Linked DNA regions of Homo sapiens. The protein of the gene in region 1 purifies or fractionates together with the protein of each later gene. This does not show direct contact. Each region holds a gene or a part of one and is shown on either strand. Other genes may lie near its edges. The genes, in order: NOX5 and RNASEH2A.

Region 1 (3,823 bases):
CATAAGTATGTATTATATAGGAAACACATAGTCTATATAGGGTTTGCTACTATTTGCAGTTTCAGGCATCCACTAAGGGGCTTAAAAAGTATCCCCCCACAGATAAGGGAGAAGTATTATATGCATACATCTGTAAAACCATTTCCATAATTGAAATAAATGTATCATTTTGACTTTTTTTGGTTTTCTAATACCTTAATTTCTGACTTTATATTTAGTAGTATGTACTTACATGTGTGTGATATGTATTTCATTCTTTGTCTAGTTGCTTATGTGAAAACTATTACATTTATTTTTAATATTTATTTAGTCTTTAAAAATAAAATCAATTCTCATTTATGTTCTATAAAGTCACTGCAAACGCTGAATTAGCGAATTCAGAACCATTGTTCTTAGAAGGAAATATAGAGTTAGGCTCATGTGAGCCTCAGGGCACAATATTTTTGTCAAACGATCAATAAGTTGCCTTGTTTTATGTGTGTTTCTATTTAAAGACACCTTTAAAATATGTATTGTTGATTCGTTGACATTGAACTCATGGCCAACAGCACTGTCACTTGTTCCTGAATGAAGCTTTCCTAACACGTATTTCCTCCATACTGCACAGTACAGCCTTTGCTCGCTTAGAAATGCTAGAGAGCACCGCAACATTATGGTTGGGAGCCGTTTTAAACAGTGAAAACACCAACAAAAAGCACAAAAATGTGAAAAATGTAGTACTAGATAGATCATGAAAAGGACACTCACTGTCTGAGAGCTGAAACAAGAAGGCAGGCATCGTCGCCTTGCTCAGCCTCAGTGGGGAGCAAGCCATTGGGTGACTCAGTTTCCACTGCTCTGTGCATGTCCACAGATGACTACGGATGGGCTGTGAGTACTGATTCAGGGGTTACACATCAATTTTAGGAAGTAGGCAGGTTTGCAAATACAAAATCCACAAAGAATGAGGATTACTGTAGCTAAGTCATTTAGGGTTATGTTACACTCATGAGCTATAGACAAGGCCATTCTCCCAGGGAGTCATTTACAGCAACAAGAATCTGTAACTCCTCACTCACTGCCTCAATTTTGGTTTCCTGGGTCCTAATGCTAGGGAAGTGTCCTAATTTCATCACTCACCTCTGTTTAGATCATAGTACAGACAGCCCATCTGTGAGGGTTTTAGACAGCCAATACCCTGGTGACATCATAGAAGACAACCTGGGCCTGAAGAGTTAAGACCTGAGGGCTGAATCCTGGCTTGATCCATCTTGTATCACAAGCATTTAAGCAGAGGGTGGAGGCTTTGGGGCAGAATGGAAAAAAACACTGGACTTGAATTTGAACTCTGTCTCTAACTTGCTGAATACATTTAGCTAAGTTACCTAATTGCTCTGAGCCTATTTCTTCTCTGCAAAATGTCCTGGCCCACCAGGCTGTCAGAGAGACCAAAGGAAGTAGTGGTGGTGGGAAATATTTGGAAAGCAGTAAAGATCTGTGTAAAGGCAAGATGGAAAGTCATTGTCATGATGTTAATTAATGCAGTCGCAGCATGCCACTCTCTGACCTGATCCCCACAGTGTGGGTCCACCTCACTCGGGCCCTGTCATTTCAGAACCTAAAGAGAAGCAAGCCTGGGCCAGCCAACTCAGGATAAGAGGAAGAGACTGAGGCATAGGGAGGAGGAGAAACGGCTGTGGGAAGCTCCAATCCACAGCCAGAACTGATTGACCCGATTCAACTCAGGGAGGCTCAGGGCCCTAGTTAGAGCAAGGCAGAGGCCCTGGGACCACCATGAGACCTCATAAGGCTTTGGCCACCCCAAGCCCATAAACCTGTTTCCTTTGCCTCCCAGCACCATGAGTGCCGAGGAGGATGCCAGGTGGCTCCGGTGGGTGACTCAGCAGTTTAAGACCATTGCAGGAGAAGATGGGGAGATCAGCCTGCAAGAATTCAAAGCAGCTCTGCATGTGAAAGAGGCAAGTGTTGGGCCAAGGTGGAAGCCCTGCATTTATCGTTATGTGGCCTGGTTCTCAGGGCATAGCCCTTACAGGGAGGGAAAGGGAACTCCCTGGGGTTCCTGAGGTCTCCACCTTGTAGCGGGCTGGCGGGATGTTTATGGCACCCTCCCATTCCTCTTAATAGTCATGGCCTCCTGGGTCTTCAACACATGAAGTTGGAAGTCAGTAGCTTGTCAAATCTTAAGCAATATGATTAACCTCACAATTTCCACTAGGCTCATGGGCAGAGCTGATGCTCTGACTTAAGCTTCCTCTCAAGATAAGCTTGTCAATGGTCTATACCTATTAAAGTCCTGTCTGCTGTGGCACACTGTTCCCAGTCCTCCAGACTCCATAGCTACCCTGCCCACCCCACACAGCCTGCATGCCCTGACACACAGAGGAGACATCAGCACGGAAGGGAGGACTGAGTCTGAAATGCCAGCCTCTCCTAGCTGTCCTTGGGACTGGCATTGAATAGTGGCCTGGTCCTTGACAGGGACTAGCCGATGAGCATCTGAATGCCCTGCTTGAATCAGAAGGACCCTCCCCTGCTGGTCCTGGGGATACTACTAAGAACTCTAACGCCACGCCTCCTTTCACAGCAAATATGGGGAAGGAAAAAATCCCATTCTCCCTAATGATACAATCCCATCCAAATGGGAGGGTGTAAAACATCTTAAGACAAAGAGCATTCGGGATGGTAGAGAGTGATAAAGGTACTACCCAGGGATCCTGGGGATGAAGAAGAAAGCCAAGGCAAGGTGGCAGTTTTGTCAGTCCACAGCGGACTTCGGCCTATACCTCATACTTGTGAACCCCTCATAGTTTTATTAAGTCAGACACTAGAGCTCCACAGGGTCCTCCCCCTGCCTTGAGGGGAGCATCCCAGGACACAGCATCTTTGGGACACCCATCATCCAAGCCTGTCTTCTTAATTTCTGTGCTCCCAGGGTCTAACACCAGGCCTGGCAGGCAGAGGCTACACAGTACAAGACTGCTCAGTGAATGAATGAGTGAACTGGTGATTAAGAACAAGCCTTAAGTATAAAATGTAGGCAGCCTTAAGAACAAGCAAAAGAAAGGACTCAGATCTTCCAGTGGAATCTATAAGTCCTTCCCAGATTCACTCATCCCTTGCGCTCACCCCAAGTGGGGTGAGACAGGGCTGGAAGGAGCCTGCAGGAGGACCCTCTGTCTGACCCTTTCCCATGTTGGTTAAGGGGCCACCCAGAGGCTGGGATTTAAAGGCTGATGGGGGTGATTGTATGTAGGGGACAGAGAGCCCATGCAAATTACAAAGTCCAGTGCCTGAAGGGGGCCTGAAGTCCAAACCAAGCCCATCCTTACTGCAGGGATCGGAACAGGTCTTCCATTAGAGCAGATCACGATGGGTGTTCAGGCACCTGAGTTCTGCCTGAATACCGCCACTCTGTGGTGCACCCCCCCACCACCACCCCAGACACAGGGAGACAGTGAACAAATTCAAAGCCCAGGCCCTGCGGCCACAGTTGTGCTGTCTTCCACCCTTCTCGCCCACAGTCCTTCTTTGCAGAGCGATTCTTTGCCCTATTTGACTCCGATAGAAGTGGCACCATCACCCTCCAGGAGCTGCAGGAGGCACTGACCCTGCTCATCCATGGCAGCCCCATGGACAAACTCAAATTCCTCTTCCAGGTGTATGACATCGATGGTAAGGGCTCTTCCTGGGTGTGGGCTGGGGTGGGGAGATCAGTGGGCCTCAGTGAGAACTGGCCATTTCACCTTGGCAGGCCTGGAGGTGCCATCCCGGCCTCCTGAGCCCAGCCTGGGACTGGTTTCTCCAGGTGAGGCTGACACTTCCT
Region 2 (2,601 bases), on another chromosome or scaffold:
ACCACCTGCCCTCAAGCGATCCTCCCACTTCGGCTTCCTAAAGTGTTGGGATTACAGGCTTGTGCTAACGCACTCTACCAATTTTTTTCTAGTGTTTTCTGCCACCTCAGTTCCTAGAACAGTATGTGGCATGCAGTAGGTGCTAAATAAGTTAGAGTAAAAGCAGCGTGATAGAGAAAGCCTCTTCAGGAGGTGAGTTTTTTCTTTATTTTATTGTATTTATTTTATGTTTTTATAAAGATGGGGTCTCACTGTGTTGCCAAGCCTGGCCTCAAACTCCCAGGATCAAGCGATCCTCCCGCCTCAGCCTCCCAAAGTGCTGGGATCACAGGCCTGAACAACTTTGCCTGGTCTAGGAGGAGATGTTCGAGTTGAAATCCCTGATTGATCCATCCTGGGGACGTGCTGGAGAAGAGGATTCTGGGTAGCAGGAAGAACGTGCCAGGGCTGTGAGGCTAGAGCATTGGTACAGTTGTTTGTTCAATTAATATGTGTCTGTTGCTGTGGCAGGTATTCGTGGACACCGTAGGGATGCCAGAGACATACCAGGCGCGGCTGCAGCAAAGTTTTCCCGGGATTGAGGTGACGGTCAAGGCCAAAGCAGATGCCCTCTACCCGGTGGTTAGTGCTGCCAGCATCTGTGCCAAGGTCAGTACCCTACTAGCCATGGCTGGCTTCCACCATCCCACTATATAGGGGCCAGGCATGGCCACCAAAGGGAAGGAGGGAGATTCCAGGTGCCTGTTTTGCCCACAGGTGGCCCGGGACCAGGCCGTGAAGAAATGGCAGTTCGTGGAGAAACTGCAGGACTTGGATACTGATTATGGCTCAGGCTACCCCAATGGTGAGCAGACACGTGACCATGGTACTAATGTTGAAATGGCCAGGGCTGAGCACACTTCTGAGGTTTTCTTTTTTTCCTTTCTGTCATTTATCATTTTATTTTGCTTATTTTTTGTTTTTATTTGTTATTTTTGTTTATTTTTTGAGACGGAGTTTCGCTCTTTTTGCCCAGGCTGGAGTGTAATGGTGCGATCTCGGCTCACCGCAACCTCCACCTCCTGGCTTCAAGCGATTCTCCTGCCTCAGCCTCGCGAGTAGCTGGGATTACAGGCATGTGCCACCACACCCAGCTAATTTTGTGTTTTTAGTAGAGACTAGTTTTCTCCATGTTGGTCAGGCTGGTCTTGAACTCCTGACCTCAGGTGATCTGCCTGGCTCAGCCTCCCAAAGTGCTGGGATTACAGGCATGAGCCACCGTGCCCAGCCTATTTTTTGTTTTTATAGAGATGGGGTCTTGTCATGTTGCCCAGGCTGGTCTCAAATTCCTGGAGTCAAGCAGTCCTCCCACCTTGGTCTTTCAAAGTGCTGGGATTACAGCCATGAGCCACCACCCCTGGCCCTTTTTTTCTTCTTTTTTTAAAGAGATGGGGTCTCCCTATGTTGCCCAGCCTGGTCTTGAATTCCTGGGCTTAAGTGATCCTCCTGCCTTGGACTCCCAAATAGCTAGGATTACAGGTGTGAACTACTGTGCCTGGCTGGAGGTTTTCTAAATTGCTCTGGTCACCCTACTCCACAGTGAAAGAGGCCAAGTGTTAGACAGTGGTGCCATTTGTTTATGGCCACACAGCCAGTGAGTGATAGAGCTGAATTCCAGGCCATAGGATTGCTGCTGTCTTCCCCGCTTCCCACTTTGCTGTCTTTCTGGAGCCCCAGTGATGGACTGAGACCCAAGGTGGGCATTTGTCCCTTTGTTAAGGGGAAGGGGACCAGGCGTGGTGGCTCATGCCTGTAATCCCAGCACTTTGGGAAGCTGAGGTAGGAGAACCGCTTGAGTCCTCGAGTTCAAGACCAGCCTGGGCAACATAGCGAGACCCCCATCTCTATAAAAAATTTAAAAAATTAGCCGGTTATAGTGGTGCCCACCTGTAGTCCCAGCTACTCTGGAGGAGGAGGCTAAGGTGGGTGGGTTGCTTGAGCCCAGGAGTTGGAGGCTGCAGTGAGCTATGATTATGCCACTGCACTCCAGCCTTGGTGACAAGATGAGATCTTGTGTCAAAAAAAAAAATAATGTTAGCCAGGCGTGGTGGCTCACACCTGTAATCCCAGGACTTTGGGAGGCTGAGGCAGGTGGATCCTTTGAGGTCAGGAGTTCTAGACCAGCCTGACCAACGTGGTGAAACCCCATCTCTACTAAAAATACAAAATTAGCTGGACGTGGTGGCACACGCCCGTAATCCCAGCAACTCGGGAGGCTGAGGCAGGAGAATTACTTAAACCTGGGAGGTGGAGGTTGCAGTGAGCCGAGATCGCATAATTGCACTCCAGCCTGGGAAATGAGCAAAATTCCATCTCAAAATAATAATAATAATAATAATAATAATATTTAATGACAGGCTGGGCCAGGTGGCTCATGCCCGTAATCCTAGCATTTTAAGAGACAGAGGCAGGTAGATCATGTGAACTCAGGAATTCACAACCAGCCTGGGCAATATGACAAGACCCCATCTCTACAAAAAATACAAAAATTAGGTGTGGTGGTGCGCACCTGTAGTCCCAGCTACTTGGGAGGCTGAGGTGAGAGGATGGCTTGAGCCTGGG

Evidence for each region.
Region 2: the proteins of NOX5 (region 1) and RNASEH2A purify together in Homo sapiens (affinity purification with mass spectrometry, with the first as the bait; one large-scale study listed by BioGRID). This does not show direct contact.

Annotation. Positions count from the first base shown.
Region 1 is NC_000015.10:69,024,694-69,028,516, forward strand, and holds part of NOX5 (NADPH oxidase 5), read left to right. Parts: intron 1-1,834; coding exon 1,835-1,958; intron 1,959-3,521; coding exon 3,522-3,672; intron 3,673-3,823. Other genes in the region: SPESP1-NOX5 readthrough, read left to right, coding at 1,835-1,958, 3,522-3,672. UniProt on the Homo sapiens protein: Calcium-dependent NADPH oxidase that catalyzes the generation of superoxide from molecular oxygen utilizing NADPH as an electron donor. May play a role in cell growth and apoptosis.
Region 2 is NC_000019.10:12,809,561-12,812,161, forward strand, and holds part of RNASEH2A (ribonuclease H2 subunit A), read left to right. Parts: intron 1-510; coding exon 511-648; intron 649-756; coding exon 757-844; intron 845-2,601. UniProt on the Homo sapiens protein: Catalytic subunit of RNase HII, an endonuclease that specifically degrades the RNA of RNA:DNA hybrids. Participates in DNA replication, possibly by mediating the removal of lagging-strand Okazaki fragment RNA primers during DNA replication.